Regions from separate parts of the Homo sapiens genome. Here all the other regions are linked to region 2. The links come from fine-mapping of genetic effects on gene expression. A gene starts in region 2. Each other region holds a variant in brackets. All regions are shown on one strand. Distances are between the middles of the regions.

Evidence for each region. PIP is the estimated chance that this variant, and not a neighbour inherited with it, causes the effect.
Region 1: its variant is fine-mapped to the expression of AZIN2 in whole blood (TOPMed, PIP above 0.99).
Region 3: its variant is fine-mapped to the expression of AZIN2 in transverse colon (GTEx, PIP 0.96).

Annotation. Positions count from the first base shown.
Region 1 is chr1:32,986,453-32,994,631 of GRCh38, forward strand. It overlaps the pseudogene LOC100419257. Among named protein-coding and RNA genes, the nearest start is that of RNF19B, 26 kb to the left of the region's middle. RefSeq lists enhancers at 2,737-2,996, 5,761-6,277, 6,035-6,454, 6,465-6,514. The variant A/G (reference allele first, on the strand shown) is at 4,814.
Region 2 is chr1:33,076,189-33,084,367 of GRCh38, forward strand. AZIN2 (antizyme inhibitor 2) reads left to right here and starts at 4,965. Exons shown (of 12, transcript NM_052998.4): 1 at 4,965-5,106; 2 at 5,200-5,320; 3 at 5,413-5,624; 4 at 5,990-6,166; 5 at 7,766-7,939. The coding sequence starts at 6,062. LOC105378635 (a long non-coding RNA gene) reads right to left here and starts at 4,808. Exons shown (of 3, transcript XR_947163.2): 1 at 4,733-4,808; 2 at 4,011-4,139; 3 at 1,696-2,098. RefSeq lists a silencer at 4,927-5,186 and an enhancer at 7,908-8,179.
Region 3 is chr1:33,054,400-33,062,578 of GRCh38, forward strand. It overlaps LOC124903969 (a long non-coding RNA gene), which reads left to right and starts at 2,105. Exons shown (of 2, transcript XR_007065697.1): 1 at 2,105-2,409; 2 at 4,163-4,507. RefSeq lists an enhancer at 729-1,023. The variant C/T (reference allele first, on the strand shown) is at 3,709.

The sequences.
Region 1 (8,179 bases), 90 kb before region 2:
AAAGTTATGAAAACCAATTCTCATTGAGCATACAAAATAATTGAGCATACAAAAGAATTATTGTGCAGTACAGGTAATTTAAGAGCTTTATTTTATTTTATTTTTTGAGACGGAGTCTCGCTCTGTTGCCCAGGCTGGAGTGCAATGGCACGATCTTGGCTCACTGCAACCTCTGCTTCCCAGGTTCAAGCAATTCTCCTGCCTCAGCCTCCCGAGTAGCTGGGATTACAGGCGCCCATCACCATGCCCAGCTAATTTTTATATTTTTAATAGAGACGGGGTTTCACCGTGTTGACCAGGCTGGTCTCAAACTCCTGACTTCAGGTGATCCGCCCACCTTGGCCTCCCAAAGTGCTGGGATTACAGGCATGAGCCACTGTGCCTGGCCTAGAATCTTTGTTTCTGTTTATTAATTGAGAAAAGGAAGTAACCATTTTAGTTAAACATGAACTTCAGAGTCAGAAAGATCTTGGTTCAACTTCTTCCCTGAGAAAACACCAAAGTGCAGATGACTGGTGCAGAGAGAGGACTCAGAGGCCCTTGGGGCCCTGGAATGGGAGGTCATAGTGGTTTCCACGGAGGCTTTGGCAGTGGCATTGGGGCCTGGATAGTGGTTGGGGTCAGGGCCTGGGCCATGGAGCTTGCAGAGGCAAGGATGAAGATGAGGAATGGATGCCTGTCACCAAGTTGGGCTACCTGGTCAAGGACATGAAGATCAAGTCCCTGGAGGAAATCTAGCCCTTCTCCTTGACCATCGAGGAGTCTGAGATCATTGACTTTTTCCTGGGGGCATCTCTCAAGGATGAGGTTTTGAAGACCACGCCCGTGCAAAAGCAGACCTGCGCTGACCAGCATACCAGGTTCAAGGTGTGTGTTGCCATTGGGGACTACAGTGGCCACGTTGGTCTGGGTGTTAAGTGCTCCGAGGAGGTAGCCACGGCCATCTGAGGGGACATCACCTGGTCAGGCTCTCCATTGTCCCTGTGCAGAGAAGCCACTGGGGGAATAAGATCAGTTAGCCCCCACACCATCTCTTGCAAGGTGACAGGCTGCTGTGGCTCTGTGCTGGTGTGCCTTATCCCTGCCCCACTGAGGCAATGGCATCACCTTGGCCCCTGTGCCCAAGATGCTGCTGATGGCTAGTACAGACCAGTGCTACACCTCAGCCAGGTGTATTGCGTCATAACAGAAAGAAAAAGTACTACCCCAGCAGAGAGCCCACAACCTAAGTACCCTGGAGCTGTAAGAGCTGAGAAATCAGCTGGACACGGTGGCTCACGCCTGTAATCCCAGCACTTTGGGAGGCCGAGGTGGGTGGATCACAAGGTCAGGAGTTTGAGACCAGCCTGGCCAACATAGTGAAACCCCGTCTCTACTAAAAATACAACAAATTAGCCGGGTGTGGTGGCACGCGCCTGTAGTCCCAGTTATCCGGGAGGCTGAGGCAGGAGAATCACTTGAACCCAGGAGGTGGAGGTTGCAGTGAGCCAAGATGGCGCCACTGCACTCCAGCCTGGGCAACAGAGACTCCATCTAAAAAAAAAAAAAAAAAAAAAAAGCTGATAAATCATGGGCATAGCATAACCCAAAGCTGCACTGCCACCTGGGCAACTTCGCCAAGGCCACCTTTGGTGCCATCTCCAAGAATTATAGCTATCTGACCCTCAACCTCTGGAGAGAGACCATATTCATCAAGTTTCCCTATCAGGAGTTCACTGACCATCTCATCAAGACCCAGACCAGAGTCTCTGTGCGGAGGACCCAGGCTCCAGCTATGTATACAATATAGAGTTTTGTTTTGTTTTTGTTTTTTGAGACAGGGTTGCCCAGGCTGGAGTGCAGTGGCATGGCCACAGCTCACTGCAGCCTTAACCTCCAGGGCTCAAGCAATCCTCCTGCCTTAGCCACTCCCTAACCCAGTAGCTGGGACTACAGGCATGCACCACCACCCCCAGCTAATTTTTTGTGTGTGTTTTTTGTAGAGACAGGGTTTTGCCATGTTGCCCAGGCTGGTCTGGGACTCGGGCTCAAGTGATCCGTATGCCTCGGCCTCCCAAAGTGCTAAGATTACAGGTGTGAGCCACTGCCCCGGTCAACGGAGTTTTTACACAAGAAAAAATAAAATGAATTAAGCCTGTTAAAAAAAAAAGATCTGGATTCAAAGATCTTGGTTCTGCCACTTACTAGTTATAAATAGTAATTTTAACTCTGAGAAGCCTCAGATGATGTTTTTGTTTGGTTTTGCTTTTTTAACTTGGAAAATGGGGATAACAGAACCTCCATTATAAGGTGGCAGTGACAAATAAATAAGATCATGCATATCAAAGTGTGGTCTCCAGACCAGCTGCATTAACATCACCTGTGAAGTAGCCCCACTTCTGACATACTGAATCAGAAACCCTGGGCATGGGGCCCAGCAATCTGTGTTACAACACACCCTCCAGGAATTCTGGTGTAGTTCAAGTTTGAAAACCACTGATATATATGTAATAAGCCTAGTACCCAATTGGCTTACTATTGACAGTTCTAGTATACTCCCTCTGAGATGTTGAGTTAGGTAGGTATCTTTTCCCCCTCATGTCCTACAAACACTGTATGTCTTAATATCTGGGTTGTCTGCTAATGCAATCTATCACCCACACAGCTGCCCTTTAATATAAGGTACTCTTCCCATCTTTCCTTGCATACTTGCAGTAATAGGTAGCTCACTATTTGGCTGGGTAGGGTAAACCGCCTGGTCAAGCCTGTTCATACAGGCATGCCAACTGCATATGCACTGTAAAGACCTTCCCCTAAAGGCCTCTTCTCCAAGGTCCCTCAGCTGTGCTTAGGTCTCTCTTTAGCTTCAGGGTAGCTCTCCTGTATGTCTGAGCCTCAGATAAGCTTGATCAGCCCTGAGGAGCAGGGGAGGTTTCCTTCTCAAATCTGGGACCATGTTTCTACTTGCTTGCCTGGTGTTTTGGCAGCCACTTCACCCTGCTGACTCACTCTGGTCTGAGGTCACGCAAAACCTCCAAGCCTTTTTCTCAGGAACTACAGGAACTTGCGTCGGCTGGGTCACTCCAGTCCTTGATGTGTGCAATTCATTTCTTAAAAATAACATTACTTTCAAATTATGAAAGACGTGCTTGATATAGTAAGTTAGGAAAACACAAAGGGAAAAAAACCTCACTGGTAATGGTCATCCTAAAATTGACATCTGATTTTCAAAAAAAGGATCCTATATTCTTGTATTCAAGAAAAAAAAAAAACCCACTTAAGCAATTTCCATTTCTGGGGTAAAGAAAAGAATCAGAGAAAATGAAACTAATGTACTGCAGGAATAATTGTGAATTCCAGCATATATGAACATCTCTTGTCTCATAATTCAAATGTACATCAATGCATAACAATGTAAACTCATCCCCCCCGAGACTACCATTGCTATTCTTTTGGATATAGCCTCCAGTCCTTTGCAGTTACCATCCTGTATTTTTTAACTTAACTCTAGGTCTAAATTTAGCACTGAATTTGGAGATAGACAAACCTGGTTCAAATTCTGGCTTTTGTACTTATGAGTTATACCACTTTGGAAATTCATTTAACCTCCTGAAGCCTCAATTTCCTCATCTGTAAAAGGGGGCTGATAATATCTGCTTTCCAGGTTTGTTGTAAAGATGGAAATTGAGGGCCAGGTGAGGTGGCTCACGCCTGTAATCCCAGCACTTTGGGAGGCTGAGGTGAGCAGATCAGCTGAGGTCAGGAGTTCGAGACCAGCCTGGCCAACATGGTGAAACCCCATCTCTACTAAAAATACAAAAATTAGCTGGGAGTGGTGGCGCATGCCTGTAATCCCAGCTACTCGGGAGGCTGAGGCAGGAGAATCACTTGAACTTGGGAGGCAGAGGATGCATTGAGTGGAGGTCGTGCCACTGCACTCTAGCCTGGGTGACAGAGTGAGAGTTCATCTCAAAAAAAAAAAAAAAAAAAAGGCCAGGCGTGGTGGCTCACGTCTGTAATCCCAGCACTCTGGGAGGCCAAGGTGGGCAGATCATGAGGTCAGGAGATTGAGACCATCCTGGCTAACACAGTGAAACCCCATCTCTATTAAAAATACAAAAAAATTAGCCGGGCGTGGTGGTGGGCGCCTATAGTCCCAGCTACTCGGGAGGCTGAGGCAGGAGAACGGCGTGAACCTGGGAGGCGGAGCTTGCAATGAGCGGAGATTGTGCCACTGCATTCCAGCCTGGACAACAGAGTGAGATTCCGTCTCAAAAAAAAAAAAAAAAAAAAGAAATTAATGAGAATAAAGCTTCTGGCACACAGTAAATGCCTTCGGAGTTTGTATTGGGCTTGTTACCGTTAACTCTTCATCTGGCCAACTACTGCTCCCTTCTTCCTCCAAGGCAGATGCTGTCCCCCTTTGTATCTTTCCCCACCTTGCTGCTCTCACACATCACATTCCCTCTCTGTCTTGCTGCTGTCCCATGTCTATCTTTGTGTTATAGCATCAGACACGACACAGTGCCCCTCTACCCTATAAGCTCCTCCAGGGCAGGGCCATGTCCACTTTATTCTTTTCTGTGTCCCCAGGGTCCAGCAGAAGGCATGACCCAGTGTGGCTGTCAGGTTAGAAGGGGTTGGATAAGAATTTGTGATGGAGGCCGGGTGTTGTGACTCATGCCTGTAATCCCAGCACTTTAGGAGGCTGAAGTGGGTGGATCACCTGAGGTCAGGTATTTGAGACCAGCCTGGCCAACATAGCGAAACCCTGTCTCTACTAAAAATACAAAAAAAAAAAAAAATTAATTAGCTGGGCATGGTGGTGCGTGTC[A/G]GTAATCCCAGCTACTCGGGAGGCTGAGGCAGGAGAATTGCTTGAACCCAGGAGGTGGAGGCTGCAGTGAGCCGAGATCATGCCACTGCACTCCAGCCTGGGCAACAGAGTGAGACTGCATCTCAAAAAACAAACAAACAAAAATAACATGTTGATGGAATGAATAAACTTAGAAGAGATTGAATGCATGAATGGACGAATGCATGAATGAGTCAGTAATAGCAGGTATCCACCAGCGGAATCCTCTTTCCCCTAGGGATAGAATCCTCCACCTCCCAGACTCCATCTCAAAAAACAAACAAAAAGAATGTGTTGATGGAATGAACAAACTTAGAAGAGACTGAATGCATGAATGAGTCAGTAGTAGCAGGTGTCATCCACCAGCAGAATCCTCTTTCTCCTAGGGAGAGAATCCTCCACCTCCCAAGGTGGGCCCTGCCACGTATGGGAGCAGGGCTCCTGCCTGGCACAGGCTGGGATGAGAGGCTCTGCCCCTCATAGCGAGAGTGTCGCTAGGGGCAGAGCCATCACGGGTCAGGGGTAAAGGGAGGGGGACACGGTGGGGCTGGAGTGGTGGGAGATTTGTAGCCCAGGTAGGGGGGTGCCCTTGCCTAACTTGGTGGGGCTAGAACCCGAGTACTGATGCAACCAAGCTGGTTTCCTACTGCAGCTGCACTCTGGCTCCCACAGTTTCTGTCACCCCATCACTGATGACTGAGGCGTGACCTACAGGAGGGCCTGGCCTACATAGCAGAGAAACAGAGGCCTTAGGGATAAGGGGCGGCAGCCTGGCTGGCTGGCCAATGAATCCAGGTCCAAGCTTAGCGGGTACTTCCTGCCGCCGGGTCCAGCGCCAGCCAGTTCACCTGCTGTGCAACCCTAGCTAAGACATGTCTCCTCCCCCCTGCCTCAGTTTCACCATCCTGGGGGACTCTTCCTGCTTTGGCATCATTAGAAGTCCTACCTCTCTCCCAGGCAATCTTCAAAAAATTTTCTGATAGCAGAACAAAAACCAAAACCTGATACTCGATACCTCTTTTGAGTCCACTAAGCAGCCCCTTAAGAGAAGCAGAGAGCTCAGAGTCAGGCTGAAAAGCTGTGTTACCCTAAGTTACTTCCCTCTCTTCAGTTTCCTTTCCTGTAAAATGGCCATTGATAATGACTATTTCCATCCCCACAGGATAGCTGTGAGGATTAAGTGAGCTGTTGGGTGTAAACTGCTTTGCAGGGGTTAGGAGCATTACTCTTACTCAGAGAGGCAGTAGCTTCAGGCCCAACCTTTCCTGAGGCCAGCCCCTGACACGCCCTCAGCTTGTGGCAGCAACAGAGATGGGAGGGCCTCCTGGGACATTCCTGAGCCTGGTGTGGCCACAGCTGAAGAAGCAAGTCTGCATATACTCTGTGGTGAGAGCCTGGCTGGTCTCAGGGCTTGCAGGGAAGGGAGTTTTTAGAGAAGGAAATGGTTGTGGTGAGACAGAATGATGGAGCAACTTCTTGGGGATCTGGGTGGAAAGCCCCCACTCCTGGTATGTTCTCATGGTGGGATGTGGAGCAGATAATGCAGCCCTGCACCAACCTCATTCACCATCAGAAAGTACCTGGTGTTCACCGACTGCTGGGCTAGAGCAGAAACAGGTTTTAACATGAAACCTCAGACCACTTGCCATTTCTGGGCCTCAGAACCTCCCTCCCCCCAAGCAATTACTAGGGTCATCTGGAGGCTGGTCCTGCCAGCCAAGCCTCTATTCCGCCACTCCAAGGGATGGGCCAGGAAAATAGCCTTTGGAGTTAGCTCCTGATTTGCTGGTGACATGGGATGTCCTTTCCCCTCTTTGGACCTCGGTACTGGGTGAGAGTGAAGTTGTATCTGGTTTGGCCGTGGCATGACCTTGAACCCAAGATACTGTGGCCATGCCAAGTATTTTGTAAAGTTTGGACTGTTGGACAGTGGAAAGGCCAAGTGCTGTGGAGGAATGAAGAAAACGCCCAGGACAGTTGAGGGCTTCGTCACTTTTCACTGAGCAGCTTGAAGGAGACCCAACCTTCTGTGTTTCCACTTCCTCATCAGCGGAATGGGGACATTTCTTTTTTTGTGGTTGTTATTTGTTTGAGACAAGGTCTCGCTCTGTCATCCAGGCTGGAGTACAGTGGCATGATCATGGCTCACTACAGCCTCCATCTCCTGGGCTCAAGCGAGCCTCCAACCTGTGCCTCCTGAGTAGCTGGGACCACACGCATGCGCCACCACGTCCAGCTAATTTTTGTTTTTGTAGAGATGGAGTTTCGCCCTATTGCCCAGACTGGTCTTGAACTCCTGGACTCAAGCGATCTGCCCACCTCAACCTCCCAAAGTGCTGGGATTACAGGCATGAGCCACTGTGCCTGGCTGGGACATTCCTCTTTAGGCCTCTCCTTCCTTCTCTGTAAAACAGGAGGCAGGTGAGCTTCCAGGGTCCTGGGCCCTGTGATTCTGCTTCTCAGCTGTGACCTTGGGCAAGTCAGTTCATCTTCACCTCTCCGCATCTTGGTTTCTCCATCTGTCCAATGGGTATTTTCCCCCTCCCCATTCTCAGAGTTGCTGAGCTCAAATGGGGTGATGAGCACTAAGGTGTTTTGAACAGGAAAAGTGAAAAGGGCTTCTGCAGGGCAGCTCCTTTGAAGCCCCAATCTCCTTGCCCTCACCTGTCCTCCCAAGAAGGTGTAAAGCCTTTTGTGGAGTTCCACCTAAAACAGAGGCCTCCGGTTAGCTCCTTCCTCAGACCCTGCTGGGTTATCTGACAGGCCCATAGCCTAACCTGGCTGGTGACTGGCTGCTTCTCTCTAGCTGGCACAGCCCTGGTGTCCAGGCTACGAGAGAAGAGGCCTGGGTCTCTGCCCAGTGGCTTCTGCAGCAAAGGGTTTTCTAGTCAGATAGAACAGGGTTTGAGCCCCAGCTCTGCCACATTTTAGCTGTGAGCTGTGATGGTTAGTTTTAGCCATTTTACAATTTGATGGTGTCAGTCCGACTGCACCATGGGATACCCAGATAACTTTGGACTTGGACTGGAACTAAACCACTCTCCTGGGTCTCCAGCTTGCCGACTCACTCTGCAGATCTTGGGACTTGCTGGCCTAGCGTGATATATATAGATCCTATTGGCTCTGTTTCCCTGACTGGTACAGAGGCCTTGGGCAATTTGCTGCTTCTTCTGAGTCTGTTTTGAAATCTGTAAAAAATGGAAATAATAATTCCTAGCACAAGGACCACTTTCCTGCTTTAGAATTCCCATTATTGGCTGGGTGCCGTGGCTCACGCCTGTAATCCCAGCCCTTTGGGAGGCCAAGGTGGGCGGATCACAAGGTCAGGAGTTCAAGACCAGCCTGACC
Region 2 (8,179 bases):
CTCACTGGCATAGTCAGACAGACCAGAGTGAAGTTTCCGTTCTGATACTCACTAGCTGGGTAACCTTAGACAAAGGATTTAATCCCAATTTTCTCACCTGTAAAATGGGGCTAATAATGCCTGTCTTACAGGGTTATCTAAAGATTAAATGCAATCATGTGTTTGTAAACATTCAGTATGATGTCTGCCACACAACAGGTGCTCAAATAATGTTTGTTTACTTCTCTGTCTACTTCTCCCTATGGAATAAATTCCATAATCATTCTGAACTGGTGTCTTAGTCCATTTTGTGCTGCTGCAACAGAATACCTGAGTCTGTGTAAGTTATAATGAACAGAAAATTGGCTCATGGCTCTGGAGGCTGGGAAGTCCAAGACTGAGGAGCTGCATCTAGTGGAGGCCTTCTTGCTGCATAATTTCATGGTGGAAGGTGGTGGAGAGGGCAAGAGAGAGCAAGAGGTTGAACTCACAGCCTTGAGCCCTTTTATAATGGGCATTAATCCATTTATGGTGGTGGAGCCCTCATGACTTAAACACTTCCCATTAGGCCCCACCTCCCAACACTGTTGCATTGGGTATTAAATTACAACCCAAGCTTTTTGAGAGACACATTCAAACCATAGCAACTGATATACTGATCTTTATTTTTTATTTTTTTAGAGATGGAGTCTTGCTCTATTGCCCAGACTGGAGTGCAGTGGTGCAATCTTGGCTCACTGCAACATCTGCCTCCTGGGTTCAATTGATTCTCCCACCTCAGCTGCCCCAGTACCTGGGATTACAGGTGCTCACCACCATGCCCGGCTAATTTTTTGTATTTTTAGTAGAGATGGGGTTTCACTATGTTGGCCAGGCTGGTCTTGAACTCCTGACCTCAAGTGATTCACCTGCCTCAGCCTCCCAAAGTGCTGGGATTACAGGCATGAGCTGCCACACCCGGTGGTATACTGATCTTTAAAAGGGAGAAATAATCTTCCCTACTAGTTACCACAAAATATCTTCTCTCCTTGTCTTCATTAGTATTTTGATTTTATTGGGGGGTAGGAGGAACAGCAATGTACCCAAATAAAGACTACGTCTTCCCACCTCCCTCGCAACTAGGTGTCATCGTGGATCTATATTTTGGTCAATTATGAAAAAAGAAGTGTTTGGTGGTGTTATGGGTTGAATTGTGTCCTTGTAAAATGTTATTTTTAAGTCCTAACCTCCAGTGCCACAGAATGTGACCTTATTTGGAAACAGGACTTTGCAGAGGTAATCAAATTTAAATGGGGTCATTAGGATGGACCCTAATCCCATATGATAAGCATCCTTATTAAAAGGGGAAATTTGGACCCAGAGACAAACACATATAGAGGGAAGATCATATGAAGACACACAGGGAGAAGACGGCCATGTGACTGGAGTGATGCATTACGAGCCAAGGAACGCCAAGGATTGCCAGCTAACACCATAGGCTAGAAGAAGCAAGGAAAGATTCTCTCCTAGAGCCATCAGAGAGAACATGGCCCTGCCAACTCCTTGACTCCAGACTCCTAGCCTCCATAACTGGAGACAATACATTTCTGTTATTTTAAGCCACTCATTTTTGGTACTTTGTTATGGCATCCCTAAGAAATTAATACTGGTGGAATTTTGGGAAGCCTGAATAAAATGATGAACAGGAAAGTATTTTTCAAACTCTCCAGTTCTATGTACTAATAAGGCATTTTTATTATTGCAACGTTTGTGACTATGATTACTCTTGGTTTATGAAGAATAGATTGACTTGGCTGACATGATTCTGACTAGAGATCAGAAGATTTTTATCCTGCTTCTGCTCCATGTTCTTGAGGGCTCAGCACAGCAATCATAGATGCTACAACAGCAGTAGCATGAGAGACAAGCAGAAGAGAAGCTACCAGCTTTTGGGTTGGATGCTGGCAGGATGAGTGTGTAACTTTTGTTTAGCTGGGGCCAGAATTCTCAGCCACTGATTGGCAGTCAAGCATAAAGGTTAAAGGTCAGAATTGGCTTGTATTTAAATCTAGTCTTCACCTTTACTTGCTGTGTGATCCTGGGCAAGTTATTGAACTTTTCTGAGCTTTATATTCCTCATCTGTAAAATGAGAACAAATGTGGCTCCTGTGACATAGGGTTGTCATGGAGTTTCAATGACATCACATAACAAGCAGGGAAAAAAGAAAAAGCCACAGCCTATCTGTACTCAGTCCAGGGTGCAGATTTTTCTGCTCTGATTACTTACTCTTGATAGATTCCAAATGGACAGACTGGATTCTGGCTCGTTTCTTCTTACCTCTATTGATTCATTCAGTAAACATATTGAATGTACCTATTATGTGCCTACTAGGTGATGAAAAAAGCTGGTAGGGCAGACCCAGACCATGACATCCAAATGCAGACAGCTCAGAGAATGATTTAACTAAAAGTAGAGCCAAAGTTATTCGGGTGCTCCTCTCCTCTCAGTCTAATTTTTTTTTTTTTTTTGAGACAGAGTCTTGCTCTGTCACCCAGGCTGGAGTGCGGTGGCGTGATCTCGGCTCACCGCAAGCTCCGCCTCCCGGGTTCACGCCATTCTCCTGCCCCAGCCTCCCGAGTAGCTGGGACTACAGGCTCCCGCCACCGCACCTGGCTAATTTTTTTTTGTATTTTTAGTAGAGATGGGGTTTCACCATGTTAGCCAGGATGGTCTCGATCTCCTGACCTCGTGATCCTCCCATCTCAGCTAGGATTACAGGCGTGAGCCACCGCGCCTGGCCCTCTCAGTATAATCTTTTAGGGTTTCTGCCATGGCCGTCCTAATCTACCCTTCCTGATTGGTAGATACTTGTTCTCATACTATGTTGCAAATGACTATTAATCTCAAAGAAAGGTCCTGCAAATGACTGTCCTATAAAGCTGCCTCCTGAAATACTACTCCTATGCATAGAAAACAAGATGGTTCCAGGCAGAAGGGCCCAGAGAAATCAGTCTGAAACCTCTCAGTTCACAGGGGGAAATCAAGCCAGGCAGAAGTGACCCAGATCCAGTTAGGGTGACTCAGCCAAGGACACCCAGCAATTATATGTCCCAGCTGGGTAGGGAGCAGAAAATGGCTCTCCTGCTTCTGGTCCCTGCCCCACACCATTTGTGTACTGAGCATGTTCTAACTAGGTTGTGCAGTGTCCTAGGGAGATACTAAGGCGGGACAAGAAGTGCCTCTGATTTAAAAAAAAGTCTACAGCCCACTGGGCATGGTGGCTCACGCCTGTAATCCCAGCACTTTGGGAGGCTGAGGCAGGCAGATTGCTAGAGCTCAGGAGTTTGAGACTAGCCTGGGCAACAGGGCGAAACCCTGTCTCTACAAAAAATACAAAAATCAGCAAGGTATGGTAGCATGCACTTGTAGTCCCAGCTACTTGGGAGGCCGAGGTTGGAGGATCACTTGAGCCTGGGAGGTGGAGGTTGCAGTGAGCTGAGGTCATGTCACTGCACTCCAGCCTGGGTGACAGAGCCAGATCTTGTCTCAAAAGAGAAAAAAAAAAAAAAAAGCCCACAGCCTAGCAGGGGACATGAAGACATATGGTAGACCAAAAGCCCTTTGGCTTCATTGATTTGAAATGCTGCCTCCATTGTGTACCAATCTCCAATGTATATGGGACTGTTGTAGACCCTGTTCTGTTTTACCACTGTCTCTTCCTGCTCCAGCACCATACTGTTTTAAAGACTGTAGTTTTGGCCGGGCGCGGTGGCTCACGCCTATAATCCCAGCACTTTGGGAGGCCGGGGCGGGTAGATTACTGGAGGTCAGGAGTTCAAGACCACCCTGGCCAATATGGTGAAACCCCATCTCTACTGAAAATACAAAATTAGCTGTGCGTGGTGGCATGCGCCTATAATCCCAGTTACTTGGGAGGCTGAGGCAGGAGAATCGCTTGAACCCAGGAGGCAGAGGTTGCAGTGAGCTGAGATCGTGCCATTGCACTCCAGCCTGGGCAAAAAGAGTGTCTTGACTGTTCTTGTACACTTACTTTTCCAGATGAACTTTTATATCAGCTTTTGAGTAACACAGCTATTGAATCTTCCTCAGCATTCTTGTCTATGCCAGGCACCAGGCTCTTGAGCAGGGTATTCAGTCCTTGCCCTTGGGAAATCACAAACTAGATGCAAAGTGTAACCAAACAAGAAGTGTAAAATAACAACAGGAATCTCACGCTATGGGTAACAAGAACCAAATGAGTGAGGGGTCCAGACAGACTAAATGCTGTGTTCCTTGGGGCCAGGCAAGTCATGGAAGGTTCAACAGAGGTGACATTATACAGGACTTTGATGGGTGAGCAGCAGCTTTCGGTATAGAAGAAATGCTTTGAGTTGAGGAAGTCCGGGAAAGCTTCTTGGAGAAGGAGACACATTTCTATTGAGAGATGAGTAAGAGTTTGCCGGGTTCACAGGATGGGATAAAGGGAGGGATTGCCCTGAACTGGGAAAGTCACAAAAAGGTTCTCTGAAGACATTTTAGATGCGTTTTGAGTTGGAGTCGGGGAAGATGCCTGGAAGAGGCAATTAAATAAAAAGAATTTTATTACAAAAGTAATACAAGGACATGTCATTGGAACCGGGTTTCGAGAGATGAGTGAGCAGTTCCTGACGCAGACAAGAGCTGGACCACGAAGTAAGTTGAGGCAGAGGCAGAAAAGGCTTCCTGGTCCTGCCCACTCTCTAAGACCTAAGATGCAGGGTCTAAGTGTCTCACCTGCGTGGCGGCGGCCCTGTAGTTCTGACTTCCAGCGTGAGGTAGCCACCGCCAGGCCTCCGGGGGAGAAGACTACAGTAAGGGCGAGCAGAGCTGAATGCTTTATGTCGGAATCGACCAATGGGATGGCGGCACCCGGTTGCCAGGGCTACGGCCAAGCGGAGGTAGGGCCTCGGCACTATGGGCGGGGCCTGGGCGGGGTTATATAAGCCAGCGGCGGGCGGAAGGCGGGGCGTGGGGGTCTGTGGCTGCTGGGCTGGCGGGGCGCAGGCCGCGGGACCCGAGCCCGGGGAAGCGAGAGAGCGGAGGCGCCGAGGATCCGATTCACTCCCTGGGGAGACCTATGGGCCGAAGCCGTGTAAATGCGTTTTAAGGCGAGTGCGGAAAGTGGCCTGGGGAGCCTCGGGGAGCGGACGCCCTCCGCCCTGGTGCTGACCTGCCTCCCTGCCCCTTCTGCCTCCTGTCAGCAGAGGCCTCGGCTCCGCAACTGCCACTCCTCCTCGGGGTGTTGCACAAGTTTCGAGGTCACCGGCGACCCCCCCTAGCAGCGCGCCTGGCTCTGGCCCCCGCGAAGGAGGACGGAGTTTGGTAAGGGGCCCTGGGGGTTGGGGGGACCTCAGCCCTGCACTCTGTAGGAGTCACTCGGACAGAAAAAACCTCGGCCTTCCGTTCTCTCCCAGGAGCTTGCGGCCCCCACCCACCGCGTGGCGTCCCCAGGCACGCCTAGAATTCTAGCACCTCAGGATCAGTCCAGCCCCCATTTACAATTGGGGAAACTGCGGCTCCGAAAGGGTCAGAGGGTACCCGAGGTCAAGCAGTAGAGAGCGGACTCGAACTTAAGCTCTTGCTCTTAGGCTGAGACGCCTTGATGTGGCCACCGGCTACCCTCTAGGTGGGCGTGGTCAAGACTGGGGGCGCCCTGGAAACTTCCCCACCCAAGTTTCTCAGATTTTCTGTTCCATCTCTCTCTCACTCTTTCCTGAAATCCAGAATTTCAGAACTGGGAAGGCTCTCCAAAACAATTCATCCATTTTACAGAGGGAGCAACTGACTCGGAGAGGCAGTGACATTTGGGCATACGGTGCCTTGTCTCCGTCTGAAATCCGGGATTCTTGACTTTCTCCACCCTTGCCCAGTGAACCCCGGGCTTGTGCTGGGGGCGGGTTGTGACGGGATTGGGATCCCTGGCCTCGGGAGGCGAGTGGGGCAGCAGAGCCGGCCCCCCAGCGGTTCCCTTCATCTCCCCTCGCCCCGCAGTGTGTTGCATACTTTCTAAGGCGGCGGCTGCAGCAGCGGCTCCATCCAGCCCGTCAGCTCCTCCTGCAAGGCATGGCTGGCTACCTGAGTGAATCGGACTTTGTGATGGTGGAGGAGGGCTTCAGTACCCGAGACCTGCTGAAGGAACTCACTCTGGGGGCCTCACAGGCCACCACGGTGAGGGGCTGGGAATGGGGGTGGGTCCCCGGTCCCCTGTACAGATCAGCTGCCTCCTCAGGAAGGGTCCCTAGGGCCCTCATCTTATCCTTTCGCTTATTTGGTACGCAATCCTTGCTATTTGCAAGAGAGGGGCTCAATTTATCCCCAATTCTTTGTCCTTGCCCCCAAACCTGCCCCTCCTATGTTGCCTTTTTACCCAGCCCTCCAAGGTCAGAAACGGGGGATTCCTTTCCTGCTGCCCCCTCTCCCTCACCGCCCACATCTAGGCATTACCAAGCTCTGTGAATTCTGCCTCCTTAAATAAGCCTCCAGTGTGCTTATGTGGAACCTCGCTTTCTAGTTCAGTCTTCCTCTCTCCAAAGGCCCCCTGATCTCCCGGTCTCATGCCACCCCCTCCAAAGGTATCATAGTCCTGTTCAAAATCTGAATTTGGCAATTCTCCACTGCCTACAGGATCAAGTCAGAGCTTCCCTGCCTCCATAGCCCCATTCCCAGCTTTCCCCACAGTATATATTATGCTCCTTCGGAGCTGAATGACTCAATTTGCATTTCCCAATGATGCTGTGTGCCCAATGATGCTATTACCATGCCTTTGCCCAGGCTGTTCCTTCTGCCTGCAGCATCCTTCTCTCAGCCTCTCCCCTCTTTACCCCTTTCTAGTCATTCCTTGCTTCTCATCAGTGTTGCCTTTCCTGATCGCCCCAGGCAGATTTTCTATTTTCTTTCTCCATGCCCCTGCATTGCACCTTGTAGAAACTGCCATCTAACATCTGCTGAATGGACTTGTAAGTACTTAAGGGGTTCCTTTTCTTCCAGACCCAAGCTCCTTCAGAACAACAGTACTGTTTGGTCATCTCTGTCCCTTAGCATAACGTTTGGCACCAAGTGGGCATGAGTAAAAAAGTGTTGCATGAAAGGGAAACTGAGTCCCAGGGAAGCAACTCTGGAAGGGTCCCTTCCACATTTAAGTAATGTGGTCTCACCCACAGCCTCATACATGTTTGGCCTTTAGCACATCTACAATGAACAGTTGTCCATAGGGATAGGTTGCAGTGTCAGTGGGACTAGCTTAAGGCTTCATTGAGCACCTGTGTTTGGAAGGCAGTGAGCTGTAGGTCATAGCTTCTGCCTTTAGGGAGTTTACCCTTTTCTAGAATGGACAGATGCATATGCAGTTCTGATACCTTGGAAGCATATGCAAATGCAGTGGGAGCATTTAAAAGCAGAGTTGCCTTATTGGTTTGGGGAAGGTGGCATTTGAGTGAAACTTTAAGGATTTTGCCAGACACAGGAGTGGGGAGGGTATTCTGCAGGACATGGTGGGAACAAAGGTTTGAAGGTGGGAAAATGATCCAGCCTACAGCTGGAGTTTTAGCCGCATTGAGGGGAGGGATTGGGGCTAGATCAGAGCCTTGAATGCCAGGCTGAGGAGTTTGCCTTCTGCCCTGTAGGCTTGGGGAGGCCCAGAAAACTTAGCAGCAGGGTAGCTCTGTGGCCAGTACTGAACCTGGGTCAGGTACTTGGAAGGATCACGGATGGCATGCACAGGGTGCGAGCTGGATGGGGTCTCACATTCATCCACTTCTTGTCATTCAGGACGAGGTAGCTGCCTTCTTCGTGGCTGACCTGGGTGCCATAGTGAGGAAGCACTTTTGCTTTCTGAAGTGCCTGCCACGAGTCCGGCCCTTTTATGCTGTCAAGTGCAACAGCAGCCCAGGTGTGCTGAAGGTTCTGGCCCAGCTGGGGCTGGGCTTTAGCTGTGCCAACAAGGTGAGCCCTGCCCGCACGGTGCACTGACCCTCCATGCCCACTGAACACACACATGGCCAGGCTAGTCCAGGTGGGCTCTGGGGAGCAAGAGGTACCTGTAGTTGGTCCTTGCCCTCTGGGAAGACCACCCACTCAGGAGGGGTCTCAAGGGATGAGGGAGGGAGAAACGAGCATGGAATTTGTCAGCCTTGAAGTTCCAGATTGGAATCTTCTTTGTCCCTGGTAGAAAGCTCATCTTTT
Region 3 (8,179 bases), 22 kb before region 2:
AGCTCCATGAAGACAGAGATTGAGTCTGTTTTGCTTATCACAGCATCCCAGGGCCAGTGCCAAATACAGTGCCTGGCATACAATAAGTGCTTATGTGTGAGCGAATGAATGAGATAAAAGAGGAGCAGCCAAGGACAATAACAACAATAACTCTGGGGACAAGTTTGATTGAGAAAAATCAAAATCTTAAAGTAAACGTCAAACAAAAAAAAATTTTTTTTTTTTGAGACAGGGTCTTACCCTATTGACCAGGCTAGAGGGCAGTGGCACGATCACAGCTCACTTCAGCCTCGACCTCTCCAAGTAGCTGGGACTATACTACAGGTGGGTGCCACCACCTCTAGCTGATTTTTGTATTTTTCTTTTTCTTTTTTTTTGAGACGGAGTCTTGCTCTGTCACCAGGCTGGAGTGCAGTGGTGGGATCTCGGCTCACTGCAACCTCCGCCTCCTGGTTTCAAGCGATTCTCCTGCCTCAGCCTCCTGAGTAGCTGGATTACAGGTGCATGCCACCACACCCAGCTAATTTTTGTATTTTTAGTAGAGATGGGGTTTTGCCATGTTGGCCAGGCTGGTCTTGAACTCCTGACCTCAGGTAATCCACCCACCTCAGCCTCCCAAAGTGTTGGGATTACAGGCATAAACCACAGCACCTGGCCTAACAGTTATTTTTAAAAATAATTTCTACCAACTGTAATCTGTCATCCCCTTTCCTGACGGACATTTGGCCCCCTTGATGACATCTCCAGCTGGTTCCAAAACTTTTCAGTCGTTTTTAGTTATTAATGCAGTCTCTTGTTTCAGCCATTAACTTGGTCTTTCCATTTTCGAAGGTCAGTCTCCTTTGGGACTCACAGTCCAGCAGGCAGGCCTATGGCATGGAGGGGAGATGGGTCTGCTCTCTCTTGTCTGCCCTCTGGTGGGGAGAAACAAGAAGGAAAAAAAGGACTTGTTTCCTTAGATGTCCCCTGCTGGCCCTTGGCTGACCTCTTCTTCGCTTCTCGCGAGGTGTCTGTGTTCCTGTCCTCTCAGACATCACAGCTGCTCAGCTCCTTATCTGTAGACACGGGGTGATGGAGTAGCACGCTGCAAAAGGGCTTGGTGCCTAGTTGCTCTCCTCTGCTGGTGGCCTCTGGCTCACCCTTCACAGTGCACCTCTTTGCCCCCCGCAGGCCTGCTGCCCCATCACATCTACCCTCTGCAGCCCCAGCCTGGGGCCTGTGGACACAGGCCTGTCTCAGAAAAAATCTCAGAATCCATCTTTCTGCCACTCCTTGCCACCTGATCACATCCTTGGCCTTCCCTCTCCATGCCCTTTCCCCTATTTCGTAGCACCAGGACAGGTTGGCAAGTGTAGTTGCTCAGCAAACATCATCAGGGAAGGAGAAGTCAGATGCCCTCTGGTGGCACCGCACACCTGATGAATGATTCTTTTGGCTCTGTTCCAGTTAGCTACTGTCCTAGTTAGCTCTGTTCCAGTTAGCTTGTGTAACTAACGGATCAGCCTCAACTTCGAGGTATAACACAATCACCATTTCATCATGGTCATGGAATCTGTGGGTCAGGAGTTTCACAAGGCACAGTGGGGATGACTGGTCTCTGCTTACGGTAGGTGGCCTCCAAGATGGCTCTCAAAGTCCCCTCCCCCCTGGTATTCACCCCCTTGTGTAGTCCCCTGCCACACCATATCAGTTGGTCTGTGTGACCAATAGAACATAGCAGAAGTGATAGTATGTCGCTTTTGAAGCTAGGTTGTGGAAGATAGTGTGAGGCTGGGCGCGGTATCTTACACTTATAATCCCAGCACTTGGGGAGGCCAAGGTAGAAGGATCGCTTCTACTTGATTGAGAAAAGCCAGGAGTTTGAGACCAGTCTGGGCAACATAGGGAGACCCTGTATCTACAAAAAAATTTTTAAAAATTAGCCGGTGCAGAACGAGACTCCGTCTCAAAAAAAAAAAAAAATTAGCCGGTGCAATGACTCACACCTGTAGTCGCAGCTAGTTGGGAGGCTGAGGCAGGAGGATTGCTTGAACACAGGAGGTAGAGGCTGTAGTGATCTGTGATTGTGCCACTCTGCACTCTAGCCTGGGTGACAGTGCAAGACTCTGTCTCAGAAAAAAAAAAAAAAGAAGATATTGTGGCTTCTGCCTCTCTGTCTCTTGGATCACTCCCTTGGGGAAGCCAGGTGCCGTGTTGTGAGGCCAGCTGCCTCTATGGAGAGGCCCACCTGGAGAGGAACTGAGGCTTCCTGCCAATGGCCACATGAATGAGCTTGGAAATGGATCCTCTGGCCCCAGAGAAAGTAGATGACTGCAGCCCTGCCGACAGCTTAACTGCAATTTCATGAGAGACCTCGAATCAGAATCACCCAGATATGCTACTCTTGGATTCCTGACTATCAGAAACTGTGTGAGATGATAAATATTTATTGTTTTAAGCTGTTACATTCTGGGGGTAACTTGCCATGCAACAGTGCATAACTAATACACTGCGCCATGATGTCTGGGACCTTAGCTGGGAAGACTCAAATGGCTGGGGGCTGGAATCACCTGGAGGTTGCTTCACTCACATGACCAGTGCCTGAGCTGGGACTGTCACCTGGAGAACCTAAACGTGGCCTCCCCATGTGGCTTGGCTTCTCACAGCATAGCACCTGGGTACCAAAAATGAGTGCCTGTAAACTGAGCTTTCTAAGAGACCAAGGAAGAAGTTACAAGGTTTCTTTTGGCCTAGCCTGAGAAATGGTGCATTGTAACTTCTGCTGCATTCTCTGGGTTAGTAGCAGTCACCAAGGCCAGGAGGAGAATTTGACTGGTCCCCTTGACAAAGTAAAAAGGTCATATTGCAAAACCTGTCTTGGGGGAATTGCCTGCCCTACCCTGAGGGAGACAGGGACAGATGGCTTCGTTTCACAAGCCCTGCATAGCTCCTGCATAGAACAGCACTACATAGTGCTAGTTCTGCTGAAATAGCACTTCCTATCAACCCTTCAGGGGAGCTTCTGAGCTTGGAAGGTGGAGCATTTCTCAGCTTTTGTTCTCATTTGTGGACTCTGGCGCTAATTCTTTTTTTTTTTTTTTTTTTTTTTTTTTGAGACGGAGTCTTGCTGTGTCGCCCAGCCTGGAGTGCAGTGGTGCGATCTCGGCTCACTGCAAGCTCCGCCTCCCGGGTTCACGCCATTCTCCTGCCTCAGCCTCCCGAGTAGCTAGGACTACAGGTGCCTGCCACCAGGCCCGGCTAATTTTTTAAAAATATTTTTAGTAGAGACAGGGTTTCACCGTGTTAGCCAGGATGGTCTCGATCTCCTGACCTCGTGATCCGCCCGCCTCGGCCTCCCAAAGTGCTGGGATTACAGGCGTGAGCCACTGTGCCCGGCCTTTTTTTTTTTTTGAGATGGAGTCTTGCTCTGTCATCCAGGCTGGAGTGCAGTGGTGGTGTGATCTTGGCTCACTGCAGCCCCCACCTCCCGGGTTCTAGCGATTCTCCTGCCTCAGTCTCCCAGGTAGCTGGGATTGCAGGCATGCACCACCATGCCCAGATAATTTTTGTATTTTTAGTAGAGACAGGGCTTTGCCATGTTGGTCAGAGTGGTCTTGAACTCCTGACCTCAGGTGATCCGCCCGCCTTGGCCTCCCAAAGTGCTGGGATTACAGGTATGAGCCACCGCGCCTGGCCCTCTGGTGCTAATTCTACCTTTCTGGAAAAACA[C/T]GGAAGGTCTCACAGGCTCCTCCCACCACCAAGTCACCCCATCCTTTCTCTGCCATCCACAGCACTTAGCCCTCTACTTCCGTCAGGTAAGTAGCCCTTTACCTACCCTGCTAGCTGGAATTATGGCCCTGTTTTACAGAGGAGGAAGTAATCTGGCCAAGGCCACACAACCAGAGGGTGGTAAAGCAGGAACTCAGTGCCAGCTCTGACCCCTAAGTCTATGCTTTAGGGCTTCTGGGATTCCAGAAAGCCTGCAGGTGTTGGAGCCTCAACCCTCATATCCTCATGGCCCTGCTGAGGGTGGGGCCAGTGTGAGCAGCATGAGAGGGTGGGGCTGGAGGGGGCAGGGGCTTCAAACTCTGCCAGACGGTTGGGTCTAGTTGTCAGGTGCACCCTCTGGGTGAAAGGGGAAGAGAAACAAGTGAGAGAAAATCGATTTTTACTTTCTTTTCAGGCCCGTCCCCAGTTGGTGAGTTTTCCAGTGGCCGGAAGACCGAGCCCTAGAGTAACAGCTGTGGACTCACTGCCCACTCTGTGTTTATTGGGCTGGAACCCCCTCTCTGTCCTGGAACTTCTGGTTGGAGAGCCCTCTGAGCTCATGGGGCCTGTGAATGGTGGGTCTTGGAGTGATTTCCAGCCCCAGTGATCAGGTGTCCTGTCAGTGCCCCTCAACTCCCTGCAGTCCCCTACTTCCCATCAAGCCAACTCCCAAATTCCAGGATGTGACAGTTCCCAGGTCTACTGCCTTCCAGGCACTGAGCTCATGTTGGGGACCCAGAAATAAATGAGATACATACAACCTCTGTCCTTGAGTTGGTCACAGTCTAGTAGGTCACAGTCTAGTAGAAGTAGAAATGAAGAGTTAACTGCCAGATGTCATGTTACAGGGCACATTTAATAAGGGTGAGAACCACACAAAGGTGGGAGTGCCTAACTTAACAATCAAAAGAAATGAACCATTGATACACAACAACATAGATGAATCTCAAATCATTATGCAGAACAAAAGAAGCTGGACACAAAAGAGTACATACTCTATGATTCCAATGTTATCACATTCTAGACCAGGCAAAACTGTGGATTATATAGAGATGGAAATAAGGTCAGTAGTTACTTGGAGTGAGGGGGAATTGACTGGGAAGGGGATGAGAGAATGTTCTGACATAATGAAAATGTTCAAAACCTTGATAGGAATATGGGTTATATTAGAATATTTGATTGTTGGGCTGGGCGTGGTGGCTCACGCCTGTAATTCCAGCACTTTGGGAGGCTGAGGTGGGCGGATCACGAGGTCAAGAGTTCGAAACCAGCCTGGCCAACATGGTGAAACCCTGTCTCTACTAAGAATACAAAATTTAGCCGGATGCGGTGGTGCACTCCTGTAATCCCAGCTACTCAGGAGGCTGAGGCAGGAAAATTGCTTGAACCCGGGAAGGGGAGGTTATAGTGAACCAAGATCAAGCCACTGCACTCCAGCCTGGCGACAGAGCAAGCAAGACTTCATCTCGAAAAAAAAACATATTCCGTTGTTAAAACTGATAAAACTGTACGCCTAAGATCTGTGAATTTCATCATATGTGAATTATGTCCATGGCAGGTGGCATTCAAAAGATTCCCCAGGCAGGCATGGTGGTTCACACCTGTAATCCCAGCACTTTGGGAGGCCAAGGTGCGCGGATCACTTGAGGTCGGGAGTTTAAGACCAGCCTGGCCAACATGGTGAAACCCTATCTCTACCAAAAATACAAAAAAGTTAGCTGGGCATGATGGTGTGCGCCTGTAGTCCCAGCTACTCAGGAGGCTGAGGCAGGAGAATCGCTTGAACCTGGAAGGTTGCAGTGAGCCGAGATCACACCAGTGCACTCTAGGCTGGGTGACAAAGCGAGACTCTGTCTCAAAACAAAGAAACAAAAAACCTCAAAGAGCCCCCAAAGACTCCTGCCTACTGGTGTGCATGCCCTTGTATTATCCCCTCCCACGCTGTATCAGGTTGGTCTATTTGGCAGAAGTAATGGGGTGTCACTTCTGAGATTAGTTATAAAAGACACTGCAGGGCGGGCGTGGTGGCTCACACCTGTAATCCCAGCACTTTGGGAGTCTGAGGCGTGTGGATCACCTGAGGTCAGGAGTTCAAGACTAGCCTGGCCAACATGGCAAAACCCCATCTCTACTAAACATACAAAAAAATTAGCCAGGTATGGTGGTAGGTGCCTGTAATCCCAGCTACTCGGGAGGCTGAGGCAGGAGAATCGCTTGAACCTGGGAGGTGGAGGTTGCCATAAGCTGAGATCGCACCATTGCACTCTAACCTGGGAGACAAGAGTGAAACTCCATTTCAAAAAAAAAAAAGACACTGCAGTTCTGTCTTGGTCTCAATCTCCCTTTCCCTCAGGTCACTTATTCTGGAGAACCCATGTGTTGGGCATCCCTATGAAAAAATCCGAGGGGCAAGAAACTAAAGCCTCCTGTCAACAGCTATGTAAGTGAGCTTGCAAGTGGATTCTTCAGCTCCAGTTAAAGCCTTCAGATGTTGGCAGCCCTAGCTGTCTGCTTGACCACAAACTCATGGGAGACCCTGAGCCAGACCACATGGCTAAGCTGCCTCCTAATTCCTGACCTTCAGAAACTGGGTGACATAATCAATGTTTGTTGTTTTAAGCTACTAAGTTTTGAGTTGTTATGCAGCAATAAAAGATGAATATAATATTTCAATAAAAGAAACATGTAGGGAAAAATATTCTAAGTGCTCCTGGCCCAGATGGCTTTCCCAGGGACTTTCAAGTGCTTTCTATGACTCAGACTTCTGGGCTCAGCCTCTATGCTGGGGAGATGATGGCCTTAGGGAACTCTGTCTAGACAATAGGAACTGGTGTCTCCAAAATAGCCGCAGACACCGCCCACCAAACCAGCCCCACAGCAGCTGCACACAGGGCTCAGGCCCACACTTACTATGCAGAGAGGACTCCAGAAATGCTCCCTGACCATGTGGCCACAGCTGCAGCAGGAATCCACTCAGGGCTCAGATGCTGCCATGGTTTGAATGTTTGTCCCCTCCAAAACTCGTGTTAAGGTTAGTCCCCAGTGTGGCAGTATTGAGAGGTGGGACCTTTGACAGGTGATTGGGTCATGAGGCCTCTGCCCTAATGAATGGATTAATTCATTCATGGATTAATGGATTGATGGAGTAATGGGTTATCAGGAAATGGAACTGGTGGCTTCATAAGAAAAGGAAGAGATACCTGAGCTGGCTTGCTCAGCCCCCTCATCATGTGATGCCCTGTACCATATTGAGACTCTGCAGAGAGTCCCCACCAGCAGAAAGGTCCTCATCAGATGCAGCTCCTCCACCTTGGACTTAACAGCCTCCATAACTCTAAGAAATAAATTCCTTTCCTTTATAAATTACCCAGGTTCAGGGATTCTGTTATAAGCAACAGAAAATGGATTAAGACAGGTGCTAATAACAGCTGCTATTTTTGGAACTTTCTGTGTCCCAGGTAATAGGCAAAGTGCTTTGCATGCATCTTTTTATTTGCTCCTTCCAACAACCCTCTGGAGAAGATATTATTAAACCTATCTTACAGTGGAGAAAACTGAGACTCAGAAAGCTGAAGCAAGTTGGCAGGGTCATAGAACTACTAAGTGATGTGGCAGCTTTAGATAGAAATCCAGATTTGTCTAGTTCTCAAACCCAGAGGCAGGGAAGCAGTAACCATAGACTTGAAAACACTTTTTTCATCTATTCCCTGTGATGCTTTTCATGGGAGAATGAGCCACACATTCTGCTATCAGGGAAAAGTCCACAAATCTCAACCCAGACTCCCTAGGTCAATGTATAAAGGTATTAGACTGGCAGATGCTATCAGAGTCACCAAGAGTCTCAGAGATCATGGGAATCTCAGAGTGGGGAACTGAGACCCAAAGAGGGAAGTGGGTCCTTTCTAAGGACTCCCTGCCCAGTGTTTTTGCACCACTTTGCCCTGCCCCTTGCCATATGAGATGGAAATAGTTGCCATGTGGGAGAAACATTAGGGCAAAGAGTGGTTTTGGAGTGGGGAAAGCAGTGAAAAAGGGATATCAGGCTGGGAGCAGTGGCACACACCTGTAATCCCAGCACTTTCAGAGGCCGAGGCGGGCAGATCACAAGGTCAGGGGTTCAAGACCAGCCTGGCCAACATGGTGAAACCCCATCTCTACTAAAAAAATACAAAAATTATTAGCCAGGCGTGGTGGCACATGCCTGTAATTCCAGCTACCTGGGAGGCTGAGGCAGGAGAATAAGCGAATCCATTGGCATTTTTTTCCTGGCTAGAATTCATTCCCCCTTTTCATGTTACAACACCCCACTTTTCTACTAGAGAACCATACCTTCCCCGCTCTCATTCCATATGGTAAGAATGGGGCTGATCTCATCTTGGGCAAGGGGCTGAAGCCCCAGGTCTGGCCAATCAGAGATGTGCACATCAAGGAA